Homo sapiens: one gene and its partners. The protein of the gene in region 2 interacts with the protein of the main gene of each other region in a pairwise test. Each region holds a gene or a part of one and is shown on either strand. Other genes may lie near its edges. The genes, in order: ROPN1, GNL3L and DCDC2.

Region 1 (10,312 bases), on a different chromosome or scaffold from region 2:
TCCAATAAAATTTCTTAACCACTCATGTTTTTACATAACTCTGAAAAACGTTTAATGGATCTTCATCTCTTTTCTTATAAAAATTATGCCCTGTCTGACTTTCAAGATCTCCCCAATTTGCCTTATTCGTATTAACTTTCCTTCTTCAACTGTGTTTCACAGAAGCCTGGATCTTTTTCTATCCTGAGACAAACCCATGGCCAAGTCAACACAGCATTTGGATGCCAACAGCAATATTGCTAAGAGCAGTCCTACTTGACCTTGTCCTTTTTTTGAGTAGTAGTTTTTGGCTTTATTAGCAAATTTCCCAAACTTGCTTATATATCATGCTAGTATTACCTCTTGAAAGCATGAGTTCTACATGTTTATTATTTAACAAATGAATAGGTACCTCTTTTGGTTTATCTAAGCCATGCTCATATTTCAAAGATTTCCCTCGTGTTCATTCGCATCATCATCCACAATTCTAGGGACACATGGCTCATTTACAGACTGGCATGTAAACTATGTCCTGTAAAGTTGTGCAACATGGTTCCCTGATTTGGGGACCTGGTGTACACACTTGGGTCACCTTAGCCCTGTCTTATATAAGAGTATGAAAGTCTTTATTAAGAGTAAGTGTCATAATACCCCACACCATTTTCATCTTTTACTTGTCCTTCCTACATTTTTTTTTTTTTAGATGGAGTCTTGCTCTGTCACCCAGGCTGGAATGCAGTGGCATGAGCTTGGCTCACTGCAACTTCCACCTCTTGGGTTCAAGCAATTCTCCTGCCTCAACCTCCTGAATAGCTGGGACTACAGGTGTGTGCTGCCATACCTGGCTAATTTTTGTATTTTTAGTAGAGACGGGTTTTCACCATGTTGGTCAGGCTGACAATCAGGTCAGAAGGACAATCAGAAGTTGTCCTTCCTACTTCTGATTTCATTATAGCATTCCTGTGAGTCAGAGATTTAAAACCTACAAGCAAGGGCTCTGAGGGGGTGAATGCACTATAGTTTCCAATATAAGATTAGGGCTATGTTTCTCTTCAGTTTCCATTACCATTCCTGATGATATTCAGCATTGCACTGGCCTTTTCCAAAGCAAAACATAGGGCTGCTATCCTTCGTAGCTAGTTGTGGCATAACATCTAGAGGGCAGATGAAGCTGTAGTGAAGAAGCACTCTTGACTGTGAGGCAGGAGTCCAGGATTTTGGCCCTGGGTCTATTTATGACTAATTATGTGATCCTTAGGAAATCATTAATCTGACAAAATTTATGTGTTTTATTGGAATTGTGCTGAATACTGGGATACATGAATAAATAAGTCACACACTCTGCTTCATGGAGCTCACAGTCCAGTGGAAGAGAGTGACAGGAAAATCAGTGACTCAAAGAAGGTATAATAAGTGTCAAGAAGCCTGCACTAGATATAGAAGAACAGAAGAAAAACAGAAGAAAAACTCTTGGATGAGGCATCTAACATCTGCAGGTATTAGAAGGAGGTCAGAAAATACTTTTCAAAGAGTGGTGATATCTGAGATATCTGAACTGAGACTTGGAAAAACCTGGTTTGTTCATTGCTGTACTGCAAGCCCTCAGAAGACAGCCGGGTACAGGGCAGGTATTCAGTAAGCATATGTGTACTTATGAGAGTAAGGAGAGAATTTCATGTAGGTAGAAGGACTTAGGCAAAGATGTGGGGTTGTCAGAAACGTGACAAGTTCAGGGAACTGTAATTATGGAGCTCTAAAGTGGACAAAGCAGGAGTGGTTGGGCCTAAGGCTGGAAATATAGCTCAAGGCTTGGGCTTTTGAACTTTTTGTTGAAGGCAATGGGGAACCACTAGAAAATTTAAGCACAAGAGTCACACAATCAGTGTTAGCTTTAGGTCCGGTTATCAATATTTGCCTCTCAGCTCCAAATTCACCTTGTATTGCCTCCTCCACAAAAATTGAACTAGGTCCTTTAACATTTTTTCCCTTGTCAGCTGTCATAAGGATATGCTTTGTTAGGACAGGGCACTGGAAGGACTGGAGGAGGAAGAGGTTTCTCTTAGGAATTTAGGTATGCTCTTCTTGCTAGGCTCCAGGAACTTGTAGTTTCTCCTATGCTGGGATCCTGTAGCACACAGCTTTTCTAGCATCTGTTTCATGCAGTGTGTGATCTTTTGAGTGCCCAACTGCTGGAGTACACAGTGGCTATCAGTGCTCCATGGCTAGCAGTGTCCCCTGGCACCTCTCTTGGGAAGCTCTATAGCAGAGTGCTGTCAGTGAGTTACCTTTTAGTGAATGGCTTCTCTGGTGTTTCAGAGAGTAAATTTTGCCTGCCTGGCACCTCAGCAATTTCTCTGCTCTCCAGTCAGCTGTGGCCATCCCCTATGCACCAAGCTCTGGGAAAGGTTTCTTCCTTGGGTGATCTATCTCAGGGGTAGTGGTTGCCCCTTATATCTGTGATTCCTGTATATTTTAGATCTCTCCTGACATATTAGCCAATCCTTCATTACTCCAATCCCATCATTAACAATTCTTTATATTGAACTTCTCTTGTTAAATTATATGCTCAAAAAATTACTATATGATTTATTTCTCTTTGTTGGACTCTGAAACACGTTGACTGACAGCTGTGTGGATGAGCTGAAGAGAGGATGGTGAAGCTTCAGGCAGGGAGCCAGGTTAGGAGAATATGGCAGCACTTTTGACAACTCCCAGGAGCTTCACTGCCTTGAAAAGTAGTTGCAATAGGGAGTGATATAAGAGACAAGTATTTAGGAGATAGGATCTACAGGATTTGGTAACTACTGAAGGAGGAGGAGGAGGAAGAAAAGAGGAGGTGGAGGAGGAGGAAGAAGAGAAGGTGGAGAAGGAGGAAGAGGTGAAGGACAGAAAAGTCTAGAGTGACTATCAGTTTTCAAGCTTGGATGACTGGGTGCACAGTGGTGGTACCCTTGTAGAAATAGAAAACACTAAAGGAGGGTCAGGTCAAATTATCCCCCCATGTTCCCATTTACTTTCAGGAGTTCCATGCACTTTTGAATCACAGAGTTGAAATCATAGACTCTCTGAGTTGAAGAGGCACCAAAGCCCAGCTTTCCTGCCTTTGGGCAATAAGGGTCATTTGTTCACATCAAAGAAGTGGGAGAAAGGTCCATTCTATCTTAACATTCCTCAATTCTAACATTTTGTAAAGTTATTTTCCATTTTTAAATCTCTTGATAGTGTAGGTCTTCTTCAATTATACATTCCAGAGCTTATCCATAACCCCAACTCTTTCAATTCAATGCATTTCCTCCTAAGTGAAACCTACATGCCTCTCAATGTAAAATGGAGGCCAACATATACCTGCCAAGTGCTGAAGAATGTAGGTCTTAAAATAGACTATAGCCTTGTTTCAGGGATCTCTCACTTGGTTTTATTGGTATGGGCTAAACAGGGCTTCCGTTTCATAAATGAAAGTCTCCAGTAACATGAATGAAAGGCTCCAGGGCAGAATCTCAGAGGGTTTCTATGAGTATCACTTGGAACCAAGCACAGGCAACTGCACATCCCTGTTTGGGTTTGGAATTGGAGATGGTGGGTTTGGGATGTGGTTACTCTTGTTTGGAATACATTCTCCTCCTCTTAACAGGTTGATTCTTCCTTTGGAGGTCTGCTTAACCTTCCCTGATTACCCTGTCAGTTCCATTGTACATACCCTTCCAGAGCATCACTTACCTATCCTTAGTGTGATTCTTTGAGTAACATGTGTCTCCCCCAGCAAACTCCACGGCAGGACTGGTCAGTTTTTGCTCACCACACCATCCCAGTGCCTAGCCCAGTGCCTGGAACTTAGTGTTCAATAGGTACTAGTAAAAATGAATGCGTGATAGCAGTCTATGAAGTGCTAGCTATAAAATGAACACGTGATAGGAGTCTATGAAGTGCTAGGTATAAAATAATGCGTGATAGGAGTCTATGAAGTGCTAGGTATAAAATAATATGTGATAGGAGTCTATGAAGTGCCAGGTATAAAATAATGCCTGACAGGAGTCTATGAAGTGCTAGGTATAAAATAATGTGTGATAGGAGTCTATGAAGTGCTAGGTATGCCCATGACATCCACATGACAATTCACCCAGAGGTATTTTTATATCCCTGTCGCTGATGAAAAAGCAGAGGTGTGGCTCCTCGGTGGAGGGCTCTGATTCCAAACTCTTGAGCCTCCCAACCACTGTCCTCCGGGTAAGAAACCGTATAATAGTATTCTGGGTACAAAATACGCACACAAATTGGCCAGAAAGCCATAATCCCCCACAGTCACATTCTCTTGAAGATCCCCTTGCCTTCCCCTTGCCCTGTGAACAAGGAGAGGCTCAGAATCCAGGGGGCGTCCGGCAGGGCTCCTCCCTCAGACCAGCGCAGCCCTCGGGGCGCTCAGAGCCCTGCCCTCCCTCCACTTCCCCTCGGGGTGGCTACCTCAGGCTCGCTCCCAAACCGGCTGTCTGGCTTCAGGCGACACCTGGCGCCTGGCCTCAGGCGAGAGGTGTGGGGAGAGACCGAGTGCCTCCCACCCTTCTTAAGAAGGAGAGCAGTAGAACCTCGGCGGGGAGGGCAGCAGCGGCCGGGGGTGACAGCAGCGGCGGGGCACGACCGCCGTTAGCGTTAGACGTTAGCGCTCCGCCTTCGCCTGGCAAACCCTGCGCGGGCTCCGCTGCCAGGTCACCAGGGGTAGCGCCGGGCGCGACGTCACAGAGCCGCCCCGCCTCTCCTGCAGCGGCGGGTTCCCAGGGTCCCGCTAGGGCGCTGCTAGGGGACGCTGAAAGCTGTTTTGGGCTTTGCTGGTGGTGGAAGGACCAGACGGCCTGGAGGGTTAAGGACTGGGCTGGGGACGTTAGGAAACCCGGGCTGGGGGCGTTGGGGGTGGGGCGGAATGTGTAGCCATTGACGGTGCGCTTTTGTAGGTGAGAGGGCAGAAGTGGAGCTTGATCTTTCGGCTTGTGGAAAGTGGACAGGTGAGAATTCCTCAGGAATCATAGTAACAACACTTCTTACAATGAGTTTTTGGTGCCAGGAATTGTTCTAAGTGCATTACACACATGAACTCATTTCATCCTTACTGTCACCCCATGAGGCAAGTACTATTGTTATCCCCATTTTTACAGATGAGGGAACTGAGCACAGAGAGGTTAAACTTGTCCAAGATGACAGTCAGCAAGTGACAGAGTCAGGATCTGAATCTGGGTTGCGTGGTCCCAGATTCCTCACTCTTGACCTTATAATGCTAAGAAAGGGGCATGGAGTGGATAGGAACAGAGCCTGAGATGCCTGGGGACAACAGGGAAAGATAGAAAATATTTATAGGGTAGAATGTGGTCACTGTGCCAGGGCACTTTTACAAACATGATGACATCAAAGTTTCACAGTAAACTCTGAAGGTAGGTATTACCTTCGCTTTGGAAATAAAAAACAGGCTCAAGGCTTCGAGTAATTTTGCCTGTGATCGAACAGCTGGCAGTAGGGCTCAGGGCCCAACTTTACTCCAGGTCTTCCGGTTTCAAGACTGTGTGTGTGTGTGTGTGTGTGTGTGTGTGTGTGTGTGTGTGTGTGTGTGTGTTTTGAGACAGGGTCTTGCTCTGTTGCCCAGGCTGGAGTGCAATGGGGTAATCATGACTCACTGCAGCCTCAATCTCCTAGGTCTAAGCAATCCTCCCACCTCAGCCTCCCAAGTAGCTGAGACTGCAGGTGCTTGCCACGATGACAGGCTAATTTTTATATTTTTATAAACGGGGTTTTGCCATGTTGCCCAGGCTGGTCTTGAATCCCTGGGCTCAAGTGATCCACCTGCCTTGGTCTCCCAAAGTATTGGGATTACAGGTTTGAGCTACCGCACCTGGTCTCAAGACTGTTCGTTTTAAGCACCCAAGGAGGCAAGAAAAGCCCCATCTTTCTCTGCTACATCCCGTGTCACTTCACACCTATTTTAAAGGGGCCCATTGCATCATCTAATCCTTCATTCCATTTATACAACAGTGTGTATTAGTCTAAATAGATTAGTTCACCCAGGCCCTTCAAAGCTTTCTCTGTTTGTGAGATGAAAGCCTTTGTCTCTCCCTAAAGCAATTTTAAGCATCAGTGAACAAGTGGGGGAACTAGATTTTTGGGTTACGCATGCAGAAAGCTTTTCACAGCCTGTTGTCATCCATTTGTAAAGAGGCCACTCTGCTGGCATTTGTCAAAATCCTGTAGGTCCTTGCACACCTGGAGAATCCTGGATGGTCTGGGGATGGCCACTGCCCACAGGGCAAGATCTGGGGATGAAAGAAACCTAGTCACTAGCTATCACCTGCCTTTCTGAGGCCTCTGTGGAGGGGCTGCCAGGTGTTGGTATAGGCACTTGACAAACAGGGTGTGCCTTAGGTTGGGAGGGGGAGGCTGGAGGCTTGAGGGCTGCAGGTGCATCTTCCAGGATAACAAGAATGCTCTGGCCACTGGGGTCTGTTCTGTTGTATGCACATGGGATAAAGGTGTGCCAATCTCTTCCTGCTTTCATGCAGAGTAAATAATGCTGACAGGAGTGAATAATAATGATCTTTGTGCAGAAGAAGGGGTTTTTCAGACAAAGCACTAGCAGCTAGAGATGGGAGATGAAACAGAATAGAATTTTAGTGTAGCAAGTTAAACACAAGGGAGGAATTTCATGGGACTGTCTGACTGAGGCGATTTGATGTCTGTCTGTAGGAGGCCAGGTTGAGAGGCCTAGGTTAGATTATCCTTGATCTGTTAGTCAATAAATATAACAGGATACAGTCAAGAGAATACAATTTTACAGGAAAATGATAATAACATAATTCAGGAAAGTTGCTTTCTTCTAAAACAGAGGTAAGAGTAGAGAGGGAGGAGCACATAGATGTTACTGGTAGTGGTCTAGTTTTGGGGTGGGTGATGGGTTCATGGGTGTTTATTATGTTTCAGTAAAAAATCTGTCTTAAATATTACAATAAAATCTTTTATTACATACAATCTTTTATCAAGTAGGTTACACTGTTTTCTGCTATTTTCTTGTACGAACGAATATTGACTATATCCTTTCTCATCATTTCCCTTTTTCTACTAGATAATTCCCATCAACATAAAAACATGCCTTCATCATTTTCCTCTTCAGCTTTGACCATTTTCTCTGCTTCCCTTTATTGCCAAGCTCTTTAAAAGAGTTGCCTATACCTGCCACCTCTAATTTCCCTCTTCCAAATCTCTTTTTAATATACTTGAACCAGGCTTTCATCCCCACCACTCTACTGAAATGACTTGTGTTAAAGTCCCCAATGACATGCTGTTAAATCCAAAATCATCTCTCAGCCTCGGCTCAACCTATCAGCAGCCTTTGACCCTGTTGATCACTTTCACATGCTTGAAACATTTTCTTTCCTTGGATTCCAGGACATTAGACTCTTGGTTTTTCTCCTTCCTCATTGGCTGTTCTTTCTCAGTCTCTTTTGCTTGTTCTTCCTCCTCTCCCTGGCACTTTAATCTTGGAGTGCCCTAGGATTTACACTTGGACTTCTCTATCTACATGCACTCTCTTTTTTATCTCATCCAGTTTCATGTTTTGGATACTACATTTATGTCTTCAGCCCTAATCCTTCCCTAAATACCACATTAGAACATCCAACTGTTTACTCTGCACCACTGGATGTCTATTAGGCTTCTCAGGCTTAATACACCCCAACTGCACTCTAAGATTCCTCTCCAAACCAGTTCCTCCAGGCTTCCTCATAGAGGCTAAAAACCTTGGCATTATCCTTGGCTGCTTTTTCTCTCACACCTTAAATCCAATCAGAGCAAATGCTATTGGCTGTATCTCCAAAAGTCATTCAGAATTGGAGCACTTCTCTCCACTTCCATCACCTTGGTCCAAGCAAACTTCATCTCTTACCCGGACCACTACAATGGCTTCCTAACCTGTCTCCCTGTTTCCGCCCTTCCCTTCCAGGGGTCTGTTCTCATCACAGCTGCAGGATCGAATTACTGAAAACCTAAGACTGATCATGTCATTCCTCTGTTTAGAACCCTCAGTGGCTCCCACCTTATGCAAGTAAAAGTCAAAATAACCCACAGGCCCTTAAACTCTCTGAACCCATCATTTTCTCTTTTCTCCTTCATCACTTCCCTCCAGCCATGCTGGCCATCTTATTATCCCTCAGAAAGGCCAGACCCTCTCCTGCCTCAAGACTTGTGCACTTGCATTTCATCTGCCTGGAACATGATTTCCTCAGGTATCCACAGGGTTCATTCCTTAGCACCTTCGGTTTTGTATCCAAATGTGACCTTCTAAGGGAGTCTTATCTGACTCTTTTAAGTTGAACACCAATATCCCTTCCAACTCCTCCCTTGCTTTATAATCATTACATACTATGTATTTTTAAATTTTTGTTTTATTGATTTCTCTATATTTTTTCACTGGAGTGCATGCGATTCTGTTTGTTTTAGTCACCGCTGTATTTCGAGAGCCTCGAACAGAACTGTGCACATAATGGGTACCATAAATATTTGTTTACTGAATTAAATTCTCCTTTTTTTTCTCTCCTTCCACCTTGTTTCCCCTTCCTTCCTTAAGAGGGCCTTCTGAAAAATGATACTTTAGTGTCCATTCAGCTTTGCATGTTCAGTATCTTAGGGACTAAAGTTCTATCTGGCCAAGTAACCATAGGTCTGGCACCAGAGAGTGGGAATCCTGACGGTCTTCTTACCATCTCAGCCTTATAATAAATATCAACTGTCTCATACTATCTCTGAGCTCAGAGAGTCAGTTCTCCCTATCCTATGTGGCTTATATTGTGGGTCACTTTCCCCAGATCTTAAATGTGCCATTTCATAGGAGGAAACGAGAGTGACCCTGTCCCACCTGCTGCTTGGATCATGGTGAGGCTGGGGCTGAGCAGTGATGATGGGTACACCATACTCAGGTTCAGCACAATTCTGTGATTTAGCTGTGGGGTGTGGTTGTTAGACTCCCCGTGGAGCCAGTCAACCCTGTGTACATAAACTCCTTTCACATATACATTTGTTTTCTTTTGCTGCATTGCAAATTACCACATACTTAGCAGCTTAAAACAACACAGATTTCTGATCTCAGTTTCCACAGGGCAGGAGTCTGAGTGGGTTAGCTGGGTCCTCCGCTAAGGGTCTTGCCCAGCTAAAATCCAAGTGTTGGCTAGGGCTGTGCTCTCATATGAGCCTTAGGGTCCTCTTCCATATTCATTGGTTGTTGACAAAATTCAGTTCCTTGGGGATGTAGGACTGAAGTCCCTATTTTCTTGCTGGATTTTGGTCAGGGATTGTTCTCAACTCATAGAAGCCACTTTCACGTCGTAGTTCCATGGCCCTGGAATGGCAGTTTACGACACTGATGTTTGCTTTCTTCCAGGCCAGCAGAGGCACCTGTTGTTGTTTCTTTTGTCTGTTTTTTAAGGCTTACTGGATTAGGTCAGATCCACCCAGGATAACCTCCCTTTTGACTAACTCAAAGTCAACTGATTAGGGACCTTAATTACATCTGAAAGTTCTCTTTTGCCACAGAATATTAATCACAGGAATGAAATCTCCTCATATTCATAGGTCTCACCCAGACTTACAGCGATGATGAGATTATACAGGGCATGTACACCAGGGGGTGGAAATGTTGGAGGCCATCTTAGAATCCTGCCTACCACAATATGCCTCTTTATGAAAGAAACTGATGGGAAGGTCCGTTACCTCTCTTCAGAGTTGAAACCATTGAGACGACAAGCACAGCTACTCATTGTGGTTCTGGATCCCCTCCTCTTCCTGCTACCTCTGTGTGTAGTCTTTTTCTAGAACCTAGGAGAGCAACACCTCCTATAACCACTCAATTATGAGAAACAAACCACAAAATTCCACATAAATGAAAATGTCTACCTAATCAAAGTCTACTTCTTTAAGGATTTGAGTGATTGGGGTGGGGGGAAAGGAGAATATTTGTCACTGGGAGGCAGGGTGAGTTGTGTGGACACGGTTCCTTCCTTCTTGACACCTGTGTCTTCTGTGGCTGCCCTGATTCTACTTAGGACTCCCCTAGGCTGTATGGCATCTTCACATACATTAGAAAAAGGTGGTCGCTCAGGGGCAGACATACCCCCTTGGGCATATGGCCTGACAAGTAGGGTAGGAGCTGAACTTCAGCCCACTCTCACCCCTCAGAAAACTGCCTGGTTTTCCTGCCTCCAGAGCCTTCTATTTCTGTTCCACATTATTCATCTTCTAAATATGCACAACACTCCCTTGCTCCCCACCATCACACACACACACACAAAAAAAAAAAAAAATAGAGAGA
Region 2 (10,036 bases):
GTATTCTCGAGCTGCTCATATAATATATTTGTTTGTATATATCCTGAGCTTCCAGAAACTCCTGTCTCTCTAGGAATTCCTTGAGCCCCTATGAAGGTGGTAAGAATTAAAGGGAGCCATTCTTCCCAATAGGCCAACTGTGAACGGGTTGAGAGATGGGACTTCTTATTGAAGAAGGGGAGAGGCCTCATAAGTTCTTGGGCTTTGCTAAGTCATGATTGGAGAAGTGGTAGATCTCTTCTTTTTGTATCTGAGGGAGGCGGCAGCATTTTGGCTGAGTAGGTCAAGTCCCTTTGGAGGCAATGGCCTGAGCAGGGTCAGCAGGAAGGATGGTTCTTTCCCCACATACTGAGGGCATCTGCCCAGGTTTAGTGGGCTGGGACTCCTTAGATTACCTTCTCATTCTGCCAGCTCCCTCATCTCAGCCTGGCACTTAAATTGTTGAGTTTCCCCCAGTAGGAAGTTCTGGGGGAAAGAGGAGTCACAAGCACATATTCAGGTTTCTCTCTGTACAGAATTCCTCTCAGAATTATTTGAGTTTGCAGTGAAATAATGTGCAAATATTATATCCAGTACTTCCTCTGATACTATTGCTGCCATCCGCATCTCTTGTCTTGTGCTGGATCTAGACAGACATGGTATCTGAGGCTTCCTAGCTAGGTTCCCAGTGTGGCCTGGCCTTGATTCAGATGTCAACAAATATCGTGTAGATGGATGACGGCTCTTTTCTTTCTTTTTTTTCTTTTGTAGAAAATAAAAAGCCAGGTGAAGGTTCCAAGGGCCACAAGAAGATAAGTTGGCCCTACCCTCAGGTAAGGTATGCCTGTTGTTGAGGGTAAGGTCAAGAACAGGTTGCTTGTCCTGGGAGAGGCCCACTAAACCCAGTAAATATTGGGTGACTCTGGACAGAGTGCCACATTGGAGTCAGTGGATCTGGCTTTCCCTCCTTCTCTGGGTGGCCGCAGCAGAGAATCAGCAGCATTTTTCCCAAGTCATATGCAGCTTCGTGCTTGATTTACCTTGGTAGGGATTATCATTATCCCCATGTTTTAGTTGAGGAAACTGTCAGTGAGAAAGTTCCTAGGTTCAAGGTAACGCAACTGGGATTTGAGACTGTCTGATTCTCAAGTCCCTGTTTCTTATGGAGAAGAGGGAGGCCAAAACATCATCTTTGGTTCCTGGATCTCCTGGTCCTGCTGGGAAAGGTGTGGGTAAGTAAGGCTTGGGAAAGAGCAATGAGAAGAAGGTATAGGCCAGAGAAGGCTTGGGTTCTCACAATTTAGCATGGGTGAAGCTCTCAAACTTTAACCAGTCCTCTAGAATCACCTGGAGGATGGGGGAAAACATCGATTGCTGGGCCCCACCTCAGAGTTTCTGATTCAGTAGGTCTGGCATGGCATCCCATGATTTGTATTTCTAGCAAGTTCCCAGGTGCTGCTGCTACTGCTGGTCTGAGGACCACTCTTTTGAGAGTCACTTATCTAGAAAGGTTTTCCCTGGGCCTTGGGAAACCTTCCCAGCTGCCCTTCCCCTCTGAGAGGTCTCCTGTCAGTCCCTGCCTAGCTATAGGAGAGAGGACCTCTACCCAGCCAGATGGGCAGATCTTTGGGGATGGAGCCCTTTTTGCTTCTCTCCTTTCTTTGTCCCCACAACTACACTTATCTGAGAAGCTTTAACTCCTGCTGCTCACCTTGGGAGTGAGGGGATGAGAGGATGAGAGGATTGAGAGATAGAAGGGGCATTTATGAGGGGATGTTGTCTTCCTTCTAGGGCTTCTTGCTGCCTTTTTGAGGTGATTTCCATGGGTTCATTACCTCTGTTTTTTTTCTCTTATGTGGTGGCCAGCCTGCAAAGCAAAATGGGAAGAAAGCAACCTCCAAAGTGCCCTCTGCACCTCATTTTGTTCACCCCAATGATCATGCCAATCGAGAGGCTGAATTAAAGAAGAAGTGGGTAAGCTTTTTGCCTTGGTGGGGAGAGAGAGGGCCTGCCTTGAATGCCAGGTCCGCAGAAGTGTTGAATGGAAGGGCAAAGGCAAGAGTTGTTAGGGTTGTTGAGGCTATTTGTGGAAGCCGGGAGAGAGGGAGGTTACCATGATACTGGATTTATGTCTGCGTTTGTTCACCACCCAGTCCATTGCTGTCTGGCTTATGCTTCCACTGCTCTGCTGACACTGCCCCTGCTGGCCTCATCAGCGCCTTCCCTGACATCACATTCATGAATAGTATTCTTCCCTCATCTTATTGGAATGCTCAGCATTTGAGGCTATGCTTTCTTTGAAGCATGTGGACTTTCTTGTCATCTCACTCTCCTGGATGTCTTTCTTCTTTGACTAGCCACTGACAGTCTCTTTTGCCACTTTTTCCCCTTTCTTATCTTTTTTTTTGAGATGGAATTTCACCTTGTTGTCCCGGCTGGAGTGCAGTGGTGTGATCTCGATTCACTGCAACCTCTACCTCCCGGGTTCAAGCGATTCTCCTGCCTCAGCCTCCTGAGTAGCTGGGATTACAGGCATGCACCACCACGCCCAGCTAATTTTGTATTTTTAGTAGAGATGGAGTTTCACCATGTTGGTCAGGCTGGTCTTGAACTCCTGACCTCAGGTGATCCACCTGCCTTGGCCTCCCAAAGTGTTGAGATTACAGGCGTGAGCCACCCTGCCCAGCCTTCTTCCTTATCTTTAAATGATGAAGCATCCCAGGACCTTGGCTTCTTTCCATCTCTGGTCTTAAGTGGTTCCGCCTGCCTAGGATACATTCTCTCTCTGCTTTTTATACCCTCTTTTCTCTGCAACTCTTTCCTTCCCTTCATCTCTCTTTTTCTTCTTCTCAAACCCTCATCTCCTGATGTCATATCTTCCCTCTCCCTGGACCCTGCTCCTGCCACCTCTGCCATGTCGCACCATTTCCTCTGTCTGTCACCCATCCCTCCCTTAGGCTGCAGACCCAGTCAGCTCCAGTACCAGTGTGTGTTCACTTGTTAGGTTGAGGAGATGAGGGAGAAGCAGCAAGCCGCCCGGGAGCAAGAAAGACAAAAACGCAGGACCATTGAGAGCTACTGTCAGGATGTCCTAAGACGCCAGGAGGAGTTTGAGCATAAGGTAAGAGTGCAGCCCTTGCCCCTGGGTAGGTTTGCTCAAAGCATCTTTTGCCGTTTTTCTGTGAAAGGGAAGAAGGTGTGAAGTTGTTGGAGGGGAACAAGGGAATCAGTGTAGAGAGGATAGAAAACCATGGGGACGGACGAAGGGAGGGAGGGAGGGATAAAGGGAGATAAAGGGCCATTTTGAGCCTTACCCGTGACTGGACACCTCTGGAGAGCTCCTCTCTCCCAAGGTTGAGCCTGAAGACTGGGGCTGGTGGCGGAGTTGGGGGCTGGGAGAGTTACATGTGACCAGGGGATGGGGTTGGGGGAGAGGGAGCGAAAGTATGAGGAGAGGATTGAGAGACAGAGAGGAGCATATGTGAGGGGATGTTGTCTTCCTTCTAGGGCTTCTTGCTGCCTTTTTGGCAGATGTTCTTGTTTCACACACAGAATACACGCTTGCCAGCTCATACTCCCTTTTCTGATATGCAGTGTGTATGCCTCCCCCATCCTGTGTCCCTCATAGATTGTTTTTTTCACACCTCCCTCCTCCATCCCTCCCTTTCACACCCATGTGCACACTCAGGTCTCCACCTGGTGCTCGAGCACACGTATACACATAGGCGCACACATGAACCATGGGGTTCTGTCCATTTTTCTTCCAGTTCCCAGCTTTATTGGTTGGTCAAAGCTACTTTTTGGTGGCCTGAGACTCACATGATTTATTTTTTAAATTATTATTTTACTTTAAGTTCTAGGGTACACGTGCACAACGTGCAGGTTTGTTACATATGTATCCATGTGCCATGTTGGTGTGCTGCACCCATTAACTTGTCATTTACATTAGGTATATCTCCTAATGCTATCCCTCCGCCCTCCCCCCACCCTACAACAGTCCCCGGTGTGTGATGTTCCCCTTCCTGTGTCCAAGTGTTCTCATTGTTCAATTCCCACCTATGAGTGAGAACATGGGGTGTTTGGTTTTTTTGTCCTTGAAATAGTTTGCTGAGAATGATGGTTTCCAGCTTCATCCATGTCCCTACAAAGGACATGAACTCATCATTTTTTATGGCTGCATAGTATTCCATTGTGTATATGTGCCACATTTTCTTAATCCAGTCTATCATTGTTGGACATTTGGGTTGGTTCCAAGTCTTTGCTATTGTGAATAGTGCCGCAATAAACATACGTGTGCATGTGTCTTTATAGTAACATGATTTATAATCCTTTGGGTATATACCCAGTAATGGGGTGGCTGGGTCAAATGATATTTCTAGTTCTAGATCCTTGAGGAATCGCCACACTGTCTTCCACAATGGTTGAACTAGTTTCCAGTCCCACCAACAGTGTAAAAGTGTTCCTATTTCTTCACATCCTCTCCAGCACCTGTTGTTTCCTGACTTTTTAATGATCGCCATTCTAACTGGTTTGAGATGGTATTTCATTGTGGTTTTGATTTGCATTTCTCTGATGGCCAGGACTCACATGATTTTTTAAGCCTCCTATAGTTTAAAAAGCCCTGCTTCTCTTTCTCGCTCTCTCCCCCTCCTCCCCTGGACCATTCTCTTTTTTTTTCTCCTTTAGGAGGAAGTTTTGCAGGAATTAAATATGTTTCCTCAGCTGGATGACGAGGCCACGAGGAAGGCTTATTACAAGGAGTTCCGTAAGGTACAGGGTTCCATTTCTTCAGGCTTTTGCGGGAGGGTTCCAGTCCAGCCCCTTTTCCTCTCCATTTCTGTTTTTTCCTGACTGAGATGGAGATTTTTGTTTCACAGGCCTGCATCACTGCTACCCTATCCTTTTCCTGCCCTCATCTCCTGGTCCTCTGCCCTGCAGGTGGTGGAATACTCTGATGTGATTCTGGAAGTCCTGGATGCCAGAGACCCATTAGGCTGCCGCTGCTTCCAAATGGAGGAGGCTGTCCTGCGAGCACAAGGCAACAAGAAGCTGGTCCTGGTCTTGAACAAGATTGGTGGGTGTTAGGCAGGATTGGGTGTGACAGGGAAGGTGGGCAGGCCATCTTTAACGTCTAGCTTGGACCAGACACTGAACCCAGCAACTCAGTGATACTCATAATAGTCATGCAAAGTAGAAATTTTTGTTCCGATTTTCAAAGCCTGTATCACAGAGTATGGTACAAGTTAGGTGTGGAATCCAAGCCTGTCTGCCTTTCAGTCCCCTGTTCTTGCCATTTTGAGCCTTCTCTGTTTTTGGACAACCCTGGAGAGTTCCTCCTCCCTCAACTCAAAGACTGGGGCAGAGGAGCACATGGGCTCAGGAGTCACTCATGTCTAGGGTTCAGCCTCCCACCTGTCCTGATTCTTTTCTCTGAGACACTGGATAAGTCATGCCACCTCCAAGAGCTCCTGTTTCTCTAGCTGTAAAATGGGCCATGGGTATCCCAACCTCACAGATTTGTTGTAAGAATTAATGATAAAATGCTTGGTACATGGTGGTCAGTACTTCACACATGATAGCCATTCTTTTTAGGGTTATCTTTGTCATTTGGCCCAACCTAGAATGATCCAGAGAGGGGATAGGAAACACAATATTTGGGGGGTCTCTGATGCTCCTGGCGCTGTTTTGGAAAGAGAACATTTGGGACCAGATAGCTAGTTTGTCCATTTTCCCTGAGGGAACAGAGGCCCCTTCAGGGAGGGCTAACGCATCCCGTAGACCAGACTATCCTTTCTAACTCCAACCTGCGGACTGGATGGGAATGACAGGGCCAGTTGAGAGACCTGTTGATGGTAGGTGGGCCTAGCTTTGGGTACGGGTGGAGGTGTCTTTGGAGGGAACCATGGAGGTGTTGTTCTGCTTACCAGCCCCATCTGTTCCTATATTTACCCCAGACCTGGTCCCCAAGGAGGTTGTGGAGAAATGGCTGGATTACCTTCGGAATGAGTTGCCAACCGTGGCTTTCAAGGCCAGTACCCAGCATCAGGTCAAAAACCTGGTAAGCCTGGGGCTAGGGTCATCTAGCCGCTTTCAGGGTAGTTTGGGGCCAGAGCTGGGAGGGTCGTGACTTGGACTGGGACCTCCAGCCCTTTAGTAATTGAACTGGGCCTTCAACTTTGAGCTTTTTGCTCCACCGAGTGACTTTTTTTTTTTTTTTTGAGATGGAGTTTCACTCTTATTGCCCAGGTTGGAATGCAATGGTGTGATCTCGGCTTACTGCAACCTCCACCTCCTGGGTTCAAATGATTCTCCTGCCTCAGCCTCCAAAGTAGCTGGGATTACATGCACGCGTCACCATGCCCTGCTAATTTTTGTAATTTTTTTATTTTTAGTAGAGATGGGTTTTGCCATGTTGACCAGGCTGGTCTCGAACTCCTGACTTCAGGTGATCCACCCACCTCGGCCTCCCAATGTGCTGGGATTATAGGCATAAGCCAACATGCCTGGCCAGTGACTTCTTAATATTAGTTTCACTTGACTTCTTCCTGTATTATCACTCTTCAGGAAGCATTTCTTTTTTTTCAGTTGTAAGGATAAAACATAATGTCTATAGGGAATTTGTAAAATACAGTTAACTACTTGTTTGTTTGTTTATTTATTTATTTGAGACAGAGTCTCACTCTGTTGCCCAGGCTGGAGTGCAATGGCATGATCTTGGCTTACTGCAACCGCTGCCCACCAAGTTCAAGCAATTCTCCTGCCTCAGCCTCCCAAGTAGCTGGGACTACAGGCATGTGCCACCATGCCTGGCTAATTTTTGTATTTTTAGTAGACACGGGGTTTCGCCGTGTTGGCCGGGCTGGTCTCAAGCTCCTGACCTCGGGTGATCCACCCGCCTTGGCCTCCCAAAGTGCTGGGATTACAGGCGTGAGCCACCACTCCCGGTCTAACTTTATTTTTTATTTTTTGAGACAGAGTCTCACTTTGTCACCCAGGCTAGAGTGCAGTGGCACCATCTCGGCTCACTGCAATCTCTGCTTCCTGGGTTCAAGTGATTCTTGTGCCTCAGCCTCTAGAGTAGCCAGGATTGTGGCTAAGTTTTGTGTTTTTTTTTTTTAGTAGAGATAGGGTTTCACCATGTTGGCCAGGCTGGTCTCGAACTCCTGACCTCAGGTGATCTACCAGCCTTGGCTTCCCAAAATGCTAGGATTATAGCTGTGAGCCACTGTGCACAACCAACTACTTGTTAACTTTAAAAAATACGTATACCTCCAATCATTTTTCTCTTTGAAACAAATCACAGTTCTTCCCAATTATATCATTAATAGAGAAATATGTATGGTTTGTAAAATATTAATACAGAAACTGATTGTTTCTGGGAGAAAAATTGGATACTAAGGGACATTTTTTTTCAATTTTGCATTGGATGTTAAACTTATTTAAAAATAAAGTAGAAAAAATAAAATTAACTACAGATAAAGCTTAAATACCCTTTCACCAGTCTCCCTAATTCTAGTCTCCTTTATTCATGCCCAGAGGTAACTACCATTGACAGTTTGGTGTGCATTCTTCCAGACTTTATTTATTTTAGATACAGATATTTAGGGTCTCAATTGGTCATCCAGGCCTCAGTGCAGTGGCGTGATGATAGCTCATTGCAGCCTCAAACTGCTGGGCTCAAGCCATCCTCCTGCCTCAGCCTCCTGAGTACCTTGGACTATAAGTGCATGCCACCATGCCAGGCTAATTTTTATCTTTTTTATTTTTGTAGAGATGGGGGGAGGGTCTTGCTTTGGTGCCCAGGCTGGTCTTGAACTCCTGGCCTCAAGTGACCCTCCCATCTCAGCCTTCCAAAGTGCGGAGATTACAGGCGTAAGCCACTGCACTCGGCCTTCTTCCAAATGTTATTCTGTGCTTTGGATATACATAGAAGTGTATATATAAAGAGGGAATACTGTTTGGAAGTATTATGTATATCATTCTGTGGCTTAGTTTTTTTTTTCTCTTGGACATCTTTCTATAGAGATGTGCCTTTTCGAGGCTGAATACAATTAGTTTCCAGTTTTTTATCGTTATAACCTGGGCTTCCACAAATACCCTTGTACATGTCTCCTTGGCACATGGGCAAGTGTGTGTTTGTAGGTGAGGTAGAGAAAGGGAGTGGCTGGGTCATAGCCTTTCTGCATTTTACCTTTACCTAGACACTGATGAATCACCCTCCGTGATGGCTGTACCAATTTATACTCCCACCAGTGGGGTAGATGAATGTGTGAGAGGCCTCTTTTCCTACACCCTTGGCAACATTTGATAGCATTAAACTTTTAAACCTTTCAGAAACATGATACCTTATTTACATTTTCTTGGCCTTTTTAAAATTTAAATTTAAATTTTTGTTGAGATGGAGTTTCACTCTTGTTGCCCAGGCCGGAGTGGGATGGCACGATCTCGGCTCACTGCAACTTCTGCCTCCTGGGTTCAAGTGATTCTCCTCCCTCAGCCTCCCGAGTAGCTGGGATGACAGGCATGTGCTACCACGTCTGGCTAATTTTGTATTTTTAGTAGAGACAGGGTTTCACCATGTTGGTCAGGCTGGTCTTGAACTCCTGACCTCAAGTGATCCACCTGCTTTAGCTTCCCAAAGTACTGGGATTACAGGTTTGAGCCACCGTGCCCAGCTTCTTGGCCTTTTTGATGGCAAAAATAGAAGCCGCCTTTTCTTTCTTTTTTTTTTCTTTTTTTTTTTTTTGAGATGACGTCTCACTCTATCTCCCAGGCTGGGGTGCACTGGTGCAATCTTGGGTCACTGCAACCTCTGCCTCCCGGGTTCAAGTGATTCTTCTGCCCCAGCCTCCCGAGTAGCTGGGATTACAGGTGCGTGCCACCACACCCAGCTAATTTTTGTATTTTTAGTAGAGACGTGGTTTTGCCACGTTGGCCAGGCTGGTCTTAAACTCGTGACCTCAAGTGATCCGCCTGCCTTGGCCTCCCAAAGTGCTGGATTACAGGAATGAGCCACAGCACCCGGCCAGAAGCCACCTTTTCTAACAGCTGTATTTCATTTGTATTCCACTTTAAGGCTACAGCTTTTTAACCTGTTTCTTATTGATGGATATATAGGCTAATTCCAATTTTGTGATATTGGAAACAATGCTGTGGCTGGGCGTGGTGGCTCATGCCCGTAATCCCAGCACTTTGGGAGGCCAAGGTGGGCAGATTGCTTGATGCCAGGAGTTTGAGACCAGCCTGACCAACATGGCGAAACTCTGTCTTTACTAAAAATACAAAAGTTAGCCGGGTGTGGTGGTGCATGCCTGTAGTCCCAGCTACTTGGGATGTTGAGGCATGAGAATCGTTTGAACCCAGGAGGTGGAAGTTGCAGTGAGCCAAGGTTGTGCCACCACACTCCTGCCTGGGTGACAGAGTAAGACTCTGTCTCAAAGAAAAAAAGTAAGGGAAGAGGAGGGAGGGAATTCTGGGCAGAGGAAGTGGCATCAGGAGTAAAGGTTGGGATGGCTTTGTCCTGTGTGAGGAATTGAGGGAGGGTAGGCTGTGGGCCAGGCTCCCTCTCATCCCTGCGCAGGCAGGGAGGGTGGGCATCCCTGTTGTGCACACAGGGCACTGAGGCCTGGAGAAGGGAAGCAGGCTTTGCTGGACATAGGCCTGTGAGAAGTAGACCTGGAGCTCAAACCTGGCCTATTTAGAGCCAGGATGCCATCCTGCCACTGCCGAGGGAGGCAAGTGACATGTGTCGAAGCAGACGCAGGGGCAGAGGAGACTGGAGACACAAAGACAGTGGAGGGGAATGGGGAAATGACACGTGTTCAAGATCTGTGTGAGAAGCCTTCCGTTTCAGGCTGAGGAGCTCAGTGATCATAGGGAGGCCCTGAAAGTTGGAAATCTGGGCTCAGACCTCATCTGCCACCTGATGTCTCTTCTGTGATATTCAATTTTTTTTTCCAGAATCGTTGCAGTGTGCCAGTAGATCAGGCCTCTGAGTCACTGCTGAAAAGCAAAGCCTGCTTTGGAGCTGAAAACCTCATGAGGGTTCTGGGGAACT
Region 3 (10,036 bases), on a different chromosome or scaffold from region 2:
AATCATAATATTTGATCCTGTAAACTACTGACCATAAGATGTATAAGCCAAATGGTAATAAGGACAACAAAAGATCATTTAGTCGTTGGCTTTCACTTTCAAATACTTTCCTAATTTTTTCGTCTTTTCCGATAGAGGGTGCTATGATTCTACATGGTGTCACCTTGTCACTAGAAAACAGCCTTCTGCAGATGGGTTTATTCTTCAAGCTCAGCGAATTTAAGATAATTTATTTACATCTTCCTTTTGTTTTTAAGGCTAGAATCACAACTTAAAATTTTTCTCAACATGCTAATTTCTGTGACTCCCGCAGCACTGAGGCTATAAAAGGAATGACTTCTGGTCTGTCTTGCTTTGCACAAGGCATTCCCCAGGCTCCCTGACCAACTCAGTTACGCACCAGCAGGGGTCCCTGTGTACACTATGGCAGCTGCTTTCTCTCTTTCTCTCTCAAGCTCTACCAGTCCCTCATCCACACTCCCTTCTATATGCAAAAGAGCAATTCCTAGAAAGCCATGTAGGGAAAAATAAATTTCTAAAACTCTAGTTCTGTGTCCCCTTTGATTTGCATCATGAATTTAGGGTGCTTTCCCCATGGATTTTGCAGTGGTTCCTACAGCCAGAAGCTAAGCTCTCCCCACACAGTCCCCTTCACTCACACCCCTCCTCGCAGTGCCAGGCAGCTAATGATCTATAAAATGCATGCATTCTCCTGGGAACCAATTCATTAAAGGAAAGGAGTAAATTAATCCTGTTAAAAATCGAGCTTGTGACTTTGGATTTACTGGCATAGGAAGTTCTGTGTGGCTCAATGCCAAACATTCACACACTGCCTAAGCCGAGTTTGTGAGAACCTACCAGGCACTGGGCACTGTGCCAGGGGTTATTCTCCTCTACTCAAACGTGACCTCCTGAAAGAGGCCTTTCCAACCACCCAGCTGAAATAGCACCCTCTCTCACTTCCTCTTCCCATGTCTTCATGTATTTTTATTCATGTTTATCCCTGGTGTATATCACACGTATTGTGCATTTGTTTCTGGAATGTAACCTCCGTGCATTTAGTACTTCAGAATCTCTGGGCCCTGAAGCACCAGAACAGTCCCAGGACATCATATGAACTCAATAAATAGTTGTTGGATCAGCGAATCAGTCAATGACAATATACTCAAAGAAGAGTTATAATAGATGTCCGCCCCCACTGCGGCCACCTAGCGGACTCACCTATATCACATACCTGTACGTGTCCCACTGCCTCCTGCTTCTATTCTTGCCCCAAACCATTTCTCTAGAGATACCACAGCCAGAATGAGCACTTAAAAATGTAAAGCAGGCCAGGCGTGGTGGCTCACGCCTCTCATCCCAACACTTTGAGAGGCCGAGGCAGGTGGATCATGAGGTCAGGAGTTCAAGACCAGCCTTGCCAAGATGGTGAAACCCCGTCTCTACTAAAAAAAAAAATACAAAAATTAGCCAGGCATGGTGGCGGGCGCCTGTAATCCCAGCTACTCGGGAGGCTGAGGCAGGGAATTGCTTGAACCCGTGGGGCAGAGGTTGCAGTGAGCCGAGATCATGCCACTGCACTCCAGCCTGGGCAACAGAGTGAGACTCTGTCTCAAAAAAAAAAAAAAAAAAATTTTTTTTGAAGCAAATTATATCACTCCCTCCCTATAACCCTCAAATGGCACCCCATCAAGAAATAAAATCCAAACTCTTTGCATGCCTATATGATTGAGCCCTGCCTGCCTCTCCGATTTCATTCACGGCCTTCTTTCTGCCCTCCTCACATGCCAGGCTCTTTAGCAAGGGCCTGTGTGACTTTGTTTCCTCTGCCTTGGATGCTCTTCTTCCCCGGCCTCATCCCTGGCACAATTGGCTGTGTTAGATATCATTAAGGTCTCAGTTTCAGACAATTTTATATAAATCAATGCCCTGCTACATTTTATTTTCCCCATAGCATTTATCACCATTTGAAACTATTTGTACATTTGTTTACTAGTTGATCGTCTGTCTACTCCCATTCATCCCATCCATACCCTCCCCCCCACACACACATACATGCACACACACACACTAGAATGAAAGCACCATAAATCTAAGTCCTCATCTATCTACCACTATACGCTCAGTGCCTACAGTTCCTGGCACTTAGTAGGAGCTCAGTGAGTATGTTTGGAATGGATGACGGATGGAGTGGATGAATACAGGGTGCTACGGGAACACTGTGGAAAGAGGGACAAACTCTGCTATCATTTTATTTTTCTAAGTCATAGCATGGAACTACGTTTGACAACTTTGCTTTCTATGGGATGCAAATATACCTTATAACTGAGTCTTTGCTTAACGTCACTTCCTCCATGAGGCCTCCCCTGACACACCTATCTAAATGTGTTTTTCTTTTATTGTCTTTCATATTACTGTGCACTTTTCTTTCATTTTTATACTTCATAAGTATCCATTGATTAATGGAATCGCTTGTTTCACTTTTGTCTACTCAAGTAGACCACGAGTATCAGAGAGAGCATCAGATCTTTGCGCTCATTGCTGTATCCCTGGGGCTTACTACTGTGCCATACACCTGGAAAATTCAATCATCAGATGAATTGATGTGATGACATTGATGTATCACAGTATTCACAGCACAGTCTAAAAAACTTACAAATGAGCAAGAAATAAAAATTGCATGTGTGTACCTACACATGCATTTTAAAGCAGGAAATGCTCTACACATTTTTAATTAAAATTTTAGTTTTTCAAATTTCAGAATACTAAACATATCATTCCAAAGTTCAGTCACTGTGAATACAAAGAGTTGGGTCATGACTTTGGTCCTGACATCGACTTTCCCTGTGACTTGGGATCAATTTATTGATCAATTTATTCAATTACAATCGGTCTCTGTAATCATTCCTCTAGCTGCACTGTGAGAATTAATAAGCTAATATCTATACAGTACACAGAAGGGATTCTGCTACAAAGTCCTAAAGAAAAACAAAAAAAGCAAAATACAATTTCCAATCCCTAAATTCATGAGTTTTATTTAGCTTTATAGTTGCTCTGATATTGTTTTCACCTCCTGAAATATTCTTCTCACTCCTCTTTGACCCCGCACCTGTGAAGTTAGGTTGCCTCAAGCCTGGGCCCTCTGTAATTCTCACCGCACCATCTTCCTCTAGGAGCCCCTCATCCATTCTCTCACTTGGCAGCACCAGTGAGACCTGCTCTGTTCAAGCTGTGCTGGGTGATGAAGTACCACAGTGATGCTACGTCTGCTGTTCAACTAGGACCATTACATGGTTGTTCAAATCTACAACTCAGGCCAGGTGCGGTGGCTCACACATGTAATCCTAACACTTTGCGAGGCCAAGGCAGGCCGATCGCTGGAGCCCAGGACTTTGAGAACAGCCTGGGCAACAAGGTGAAACTCTGTCTCCACAAAAAACACAAAAATTAGCCAGGCATGGTGGCACATGCCTGGAGTCCCAGCTACTCAGGAGACTGAGGTGAGAGGATCGCTTGAGCCTGGGAGGTCAAGGCTACAGTAAACCATGATCATGCCACTGTACACCACCCTGGGTGACAGAGTGAGACCCTGTCTCAAAAAAAAAAAAAAAACCACCTGCAACTGCAGCTTCAGTCCTGATGTCCTTGGCAGGCCTCAGCTCTGCCATTTACAACTGCTTGCAGCACACTTTCAACTAAGTTTCCTGATGATACTTCCAACTCAACATGTTTGAAATTACGTAGGTCATTCTTTGCCCTGGCTGCCTTCTTCTTGGCCATAGAACTACCATTTTCTCAAATTCCAAGCTTAAAAACCTCAGTTATCTTTGGCCCCAATTTCTCCATTAACCCCTTGTATCCAATCATCACACAAATCCTTTGTTCCTTGGTTTCTTCCAGAATAATCATCACTTCCTGCTGCCTCTACCACCTCCCCAGTCTAGGCTCCTTTCCCCTCATACCAAGATAGTTGCAACTGCCTTACAACCATCGACTTATCTATGGCTTCTCACCACGTGAAGTCTTCCTCCATGTAAAAGATCTGATGCTCCCAAAATGGACTCAGATTAATATTCTCACCTCTCAGAAGCCCTTGTGGGCTGCCCTCTATTCAAGGACAAACACTAGACTCTTCATTCTGCTATTCAAGGTCATGTAATAACTGTCACCACCTACCATGTCAGGCACATCAGCCCCCACACCAAAAAGGACCATCTGTTCCAGTCAGCCTAAGGGACTCATTGTCCCGGGGCTCGGGAGCAGGAGCTCTGAGCTGGCTGTGTGGATGCAATTCCTCCCCTCCTCCCCTGCCATTTGCTCAGTAGGAGCCTTTGTTTGTATTGTATTGTATTTTATGTTATTTTGTTTCATTTTTTTGAGACAGGGTCTCACTCTGTTGCCCAGGCTGAAGTGCAGTGGGGCAATCTCTGCTCACTGCAACCTCTGCCTTCAATGGGAGCCTTTGAACCTGTCACTTCTACTCTGTGTACTTCCTTTTTTCATTCCTTTTTAAATGTAGATGACAAAGATGCCTGCCTTGTGGGGTGAGGTTAAATAAATCACTACTGTAAAGAGCTTGGCATAGTGTTGAGCCCACAAGGGCCCGGTAAATGTCAGCCAGCGTGACTGCTTCTTCGCATGCCCACGTCTGCCCCAACCATCTCACCCTCCCTTGGATCTGAAGGTCCTCTCCCCTCATCTACCTTTTTCTGAATTTTAAACAGTTTCAAAGGCAGAGCTCAAATTCAACTTCCTCTGTGGACTGCTGCCATTGTACATTCAGTCCTTCCCTCCCTCTCATGGTCACCAATCTCTAGATATTTGATGTTTAGCATTAGCTTGTTTGTTGCCTTTTTAAGCTATCTTCTTTATTTCAAGTAGATTGTAAGTTGCTTGAGGGCAAGAGCTCTATTGATTTTTATTTTATTTTTGTCATAATAGTATAAGAGTCTCAGCTAATGAGTTCTTAATATCTGTTATGCTGAGTTCGGCACTACTTATGTACACAAAATTATTTGTCTTTCTTTCAAGAATTTCACATGATATAACCAAAAAAAAGGAGGGATCTAAATCATTAGGAGACAATATCATTGCCTAGAAATCATTTACTTTACAAAATACCAAAATAAGAATGTTGCTTAATTAATTCAGGGTGTGGGTGGAAGATGTCAAATCAGTTCTGATCACAACTTGTCGGGCAATTCAACCAAAAGGGAAGAAAGAGAAGCCTCAGCCAGGAAGAACTGCCAAGGCAACGCTCTGGCATGACATGGAGCTCACCCCATCAGGGAGCGCAGACTGAAAACACAAGAAGGTTAGGAAATTACCTACTAAATGCTGTCGTTACTCCCACAGAGTAGGTATTTAATAAATGTTTGCTGAATTAACAAACCATGAATAAATGATAAATGGAAAAGATTCAGATGGCAAACTAAATACCTAGAACAATTCTCAATCTTTTCAAGGAATATTAATGAGGATTATACCCCTTTTCTCAGCGAAACTTCCCTTTTAGTCTTCGTTAAAGATAGAAACCAAGACTGGATGATCATTGATGTGACCTACTACAATGGTTCTTACAGTTTAAAGTATTATTGCCAAGATTTTAAGTGCAATATAAATTATGTCAGGTGTATATACAAGGAAAAAATTTTAAAATACATATTCTAAAAAATGTTAGCTCTGTTTAGGACCATAAGTGTAACATTAAAGTTCTAGTGCTGTTTCACATAATTGGTTATACACCACGAAGCGGCTAAGTTTTATCTCTTGGAACTTAATTGAAGCCCAAAGGACAGTCTCTTTGTATCATATAAAAATATAGAACATCAACGAGGAAAGCATCTGATACTTACACTCCCTTTAGACTTTCTGGATCCTACAATAGGAGGTAGTGAAGAAGCTTTCTGACTGTGGAAACAAATTGCAATTTAGAAATCTGAATGTTGTTTACAAATAATGTACAATGCAAGATAATTATCATCCCCACCTGGAAGTCAACTGTTTACTGCTGTGTTTCACAAAAGGTAGATAACATACACTTTAACACATACTTTCCCAATTTCACAAAGATCATAACATTTCCAAATTCCATCCCAAAAGATTTGTAATGTTTTCCTGTATAATATTTTAATCAATGCTTACAAGTAAACTTTTAGTATCACCTGAAATTTGTATAGCATTTTTATCCAGATCCCAAAGTGTCCTATTTGCATTTCAAAAAATCATTTCCAAATGTGAATAATGATTTTTCCAGACTGAGTTAAAAACAAATTTCCTTCGTTTCTATGATGTCTTCTATGTCTACCTCTGATAGGAGAGCAGAGGTAAAACACTGGCATTTGCATTCAGGTAGTTTTTAAACAAGTCGTCCTCACCAAAAAGTTAAAAATTATTTTAGGCTGTAAGAATAAGTTGTTTTGTTGATATCTGTATTATTAGGAAAAGACCCATCTTGAAACCCAACTGAATCTCTCCAAAAATAGAAGGACACATATATAAAAAAAATTCTTATTAATTGTATGAGAAAGGCCAACGTGAGTTACAGTTTTCTTATTACCATCAGGTACACACTGTTGATCACAGCAGGTTAACCTAGGGCTGCTTAGCAAAGATGGCTAAAGATTTGATTTCATGGATGGGTAAGGTTGGTTAGCGATAAGTCAGCTGGTAAATAATTCAAAGGTGCTAGAAAACCATGTGCTCTTGCATAGTTCAAACACCACCCCTGAAATTCCACTTCATCTATTACTTATTTAGAAGCTCTTGGCCAGCCTCTCCATCAAGTTACACAAATTGTGAATTAATTGCAAACACACTGGTGATATTCTGCTCTACTTCTGCGGACGACAACCAAAAAAAATTTTTTTTTGCAATGGCAAGGTGGCCACAGAATCTCTGGGAAAAGCAACAGAGATGGATCCCTGGGCACCATGAGCAAGCCGAGAGATCCTGCAGCATGGGCCAGAGCTCTTCTTTTTTTTTTTTTTTTTTTTTTTTTTTTTTTTTTTTTTTTGAGACGGAGTCTCGCTCTGTCGCCCAGGCTGGAGTGCAGTGGCGGGATCTCAGCTCACTGCAAGCTCCGCCTCCCGGGTTCACGCCATTCTCCTGCCTCAGCCTCCCAAGTAGCTGGGACTACAGGCGCCCGCCACTACGCCCGGCTAATTTTTTGTATTTTTAGTAGAGACGGGGTTTCACCGTTTTAGCCGGGATGGTCTCGATCTCCTGACCTCGTGATCCGCCCGCCTCGGCCTCCCAGAGTGCTGGGATTACAGGCGTGAGCCACCGCGCCCGGCCCAGAGCTCTTCTTGAGTGACTCCGCAGTGTATCTCCTAGGCTGAAATAAAGCATCTTTCACAAATATATGACATTTCATGGAGAAAAACTGTTTACGGTATATTGTAATTAAAAATATAATCCTTAAAATTTTACATGAATTAACTGTACACCCATCCTCTCTATTTGCATAAGTGGGATTATGTTGTTTTTATATTTTACAGTTATTATTAAAACAAGTATAAAATATTATGAGTTTTTTAACACTCTTGGATGTTTCTATCCAAACCAACTGAAAAGTTATTTGGTCTAGCAACTATTAAGACACAAAAACTTCTAATAATGTTTGCTGTAGAGAAGCTCATTGCCCTGTATCTTCTTCACAATAATAAATTTTTGCATTTACTTATAAATTTCATGCATGCTAAAAAAAAACCATGTAGTCTTTCATAACTTCCCAGAAATTATATTTTTGTTCAATAGCTTTCAGTCTCCCATCATGGCAATAAAAACAAAGATCAATGTATACCATATATGCTTTCCATTCTAAGTAATAAATAAGATTATCAATTACATAAAATATAATGGTGGTCAGCAAAAGACCCAATGCTATTTCAAGTGGTAACTAAAGCATGAGGAGTGGTAAGGAGTAAGACTTACCCAAAAGGCCTTCTCATCGTTGACTTGTCAAAAAGTAACTCACTGTAAGGCAGTTTCTTAAACTTATCTCTGCCAACAGCCACATAAAACTGCCCATTCTCCAACTCTGCTCCACTCTCAACAAGTTTTCCTTCTAAAGTATAAAGCCTGTCGAAAATATGAACACCAACAATTAGAATTTTAACCAACATTTAAAGAATTGCTTAAGATTACAAAGTATTCTGGATGTCAAAAAAATTAAAATTACATAGTAAATAAAAACATTCTGTACTTAATTTAGCTCATTTGTTACTATCCTCATTATTGCATTATAGATGCCTCAAAGTTATCAGATTCCACTAAATACTAATGTTATAATGCAGATACAATGACTATCTTGCTGTACAGGGTTTCACCCCAGTGAGTCTGATGATCTGGCATAAGGATCCCTATTGCTGCCATATTAAAATTTTAGAGGAGAAAAATTAACTTGTACAGATCACAGTGCTTTAAATAAAGCTCTGTTTCCATTGAACATTGATTCTTCTATTTATATTTTGTTAATACTTTTTTTTTTTTTTTTTTTTTTTTTTGAGACGGAGTCTCGCTCTGTCGCCCAGGCTGGAGTGCAGTGGCAGGATCTCGGCTCACTGCAAGCTCCGCCTCCCGGGTTCATGCCATTCTCCTGCCTCAGCCTCCCAAGTAGCTGGGACTACAGGCGCCCGCCACTACGCCCGGCTAATTTTTTGTATTTTTAGTAGAGACCGGGTTTCACCGTTTTAGCCGGGATGGTCTCGATCTCCTGACCTCGTGATCCGCCCGCCTCGGCCTCCCAAAGTGCTGGGATTACAGGCATGAGCCACCGCGCCCGGCCTTGTTAATACTTTTAAATTTTATTTTCTTAGCATATTCATCAGGCTGGCAAGCTTCTGACCACATTCTGTGTAAGAACAGCCCTCAACCAAAATATTACATACAAACACACAGAGAACCGGGTCAGGAACAATGGGGTGAGAGGGCAGGAGGTAAAAGAACCCATTGCCAGTGTTAATGATGCAGAACTGCATAGCATTTGTGCTTCTTTCTTTTTTTTTGCCGTCCCTACTAAGCAAAACAAGAGTGAACATTATATCTTCCCAGAATCGAGCAGTTTCACAGTAACCTTCCTTTACTGTAAAACTGCTGCTACGAGCTACAATTAATATGTTACTTATTAAAAGAACAGTCATAATTTTACCAGATGATTTTAAATGTCCACAAAAATTTTTTTAAAGAACAGGAAAATAAGTATTAGAAAACTAAACCAGAAAGACAGTGCATATTTTTTAAGGTTATAAGCAAGAGCTATTAATAAATGGAAGGATTTCAGTATCATCAAAAAGCTTTCTGTCTTCCTATATTACATAATAAGATTAAATGTCATTTACAGACGCAAAAAAAAAAACCCATTGACCTGTCAGCTTGTTTCCTGATGACATAAATGGCCATATCATACAGAACCATGAAATACAATGAAAATAGCCACCAATAGCCACCAACATTCCTGAAATGTATTTGTGTTTTTAGTTAGTATACAGATGGTAAAGTCTCTTTCTTTATAACATTGTACCTCTACTCCTAACAAGTCTAAATATCAACACTTAACCCAGAATTCTATGTTTTTTGCCTTAACTTAAGCTGGACATGGTGGCCTATGCCTATAGTTCCAGCTACTTGGAAGGCTAAGGCAAGAGGATCGCTTGAGCCCAGGAGTTCAAGACCAGCCTGGGCAACATAGTAAGACGCTATCTCAAAAAACACTTGACCAGGGTTTCTGAATACTGGCATTATTGACATTTTGGACCAGATAATTCTTTGCTGGAAAGGTGAGTAGGCTGCCCTGTACATTGTAAGATGTTTATTAGCAGCACCTTTGGCCTCCACCCACTAAACAGTAGCAGTAGCCACCCCATCCCCAGTTGGGACTACCAAAAATGGTTTCAGGCACTGCCAAATGTCCCCAAGGGGCAAAATCATACCTGCTTGAGAGCCAATGGCCTATATCCAAGCACTATTTTTCTACTTTTCTTCAAAATAGTTATATCTCAATCAGTAGTAATTTCATAGCTAGAAATTAAAAACC

What was found.
Region 1: the proteins of GNL3L (region 2) and ROPN1 interact in binary tests that used the Homo sapiens proteins (3 or more experiments, as listed by UniProt).
Region 3: the proteins of GNL3L (region 2) and DCDC2 interact in binary tests that used the Homo sapiens proteins (3 or more experiments, as listed by UniProt).

What each region holds. Positions count from the first base shown.
Region 1 is NC_000003.12:123,987,485-123,997,796, forward strand, and holds the start of ROPN1 (ropporin-1A), read right to left. Parts: upstream 4,641-10,312; 5' UTR 4,438-4,640; intron 3,875-4,437; exon of another isoform or gene 3,697-3,874; intron 1-3,696. UniProt on the Homo sapiens protein: Important for male fertility. With ROPN1L, involved in fibrous sheath integrity and sperm motility, plays a role in PKA-dependent signaling processes required for spermatozoa capacitation.
Region 2 is NC_000023.11:54,538,290-54,548,325, forward strand, and holds part of GNL3L (guanine nucleotide-binding protein-like 3-like protein), read left to right. Parts: intron 1-750; coding exon 751-812; intron 813-1,845; coding exon 1,846-1,953; intron 1,954-2,983; coding exon 2,984-3,100; intron 3,101-4,665; coding exon 4,666-4,749; intron 4,750-4,917; coding exon 4,918-5,053; intron 5,054-5,933; coding exon 5,934-6,037; intron 6,038-9,939; coding exon 9,940-10,036.
Region 3 is NC_000006.12:24,282,997-24,293,032, forward strand, and holds part of DCDC2 (doublecortin domain-containing protein 2), read right to left. Parts: intron 8,083-10,036; coding exon 7,936-8,082; intron 5,911-7,935; coding exon 5,856-5,910; intron 1-5,855. UniProt on the Homo sapiens protein: Protein that plays a role in the inhibition of canonical Wnt signaling pathway. May be involved in neuronal migration during development of the cerebral neocortex. Involved in the control of ciliogenesis and ciliary length.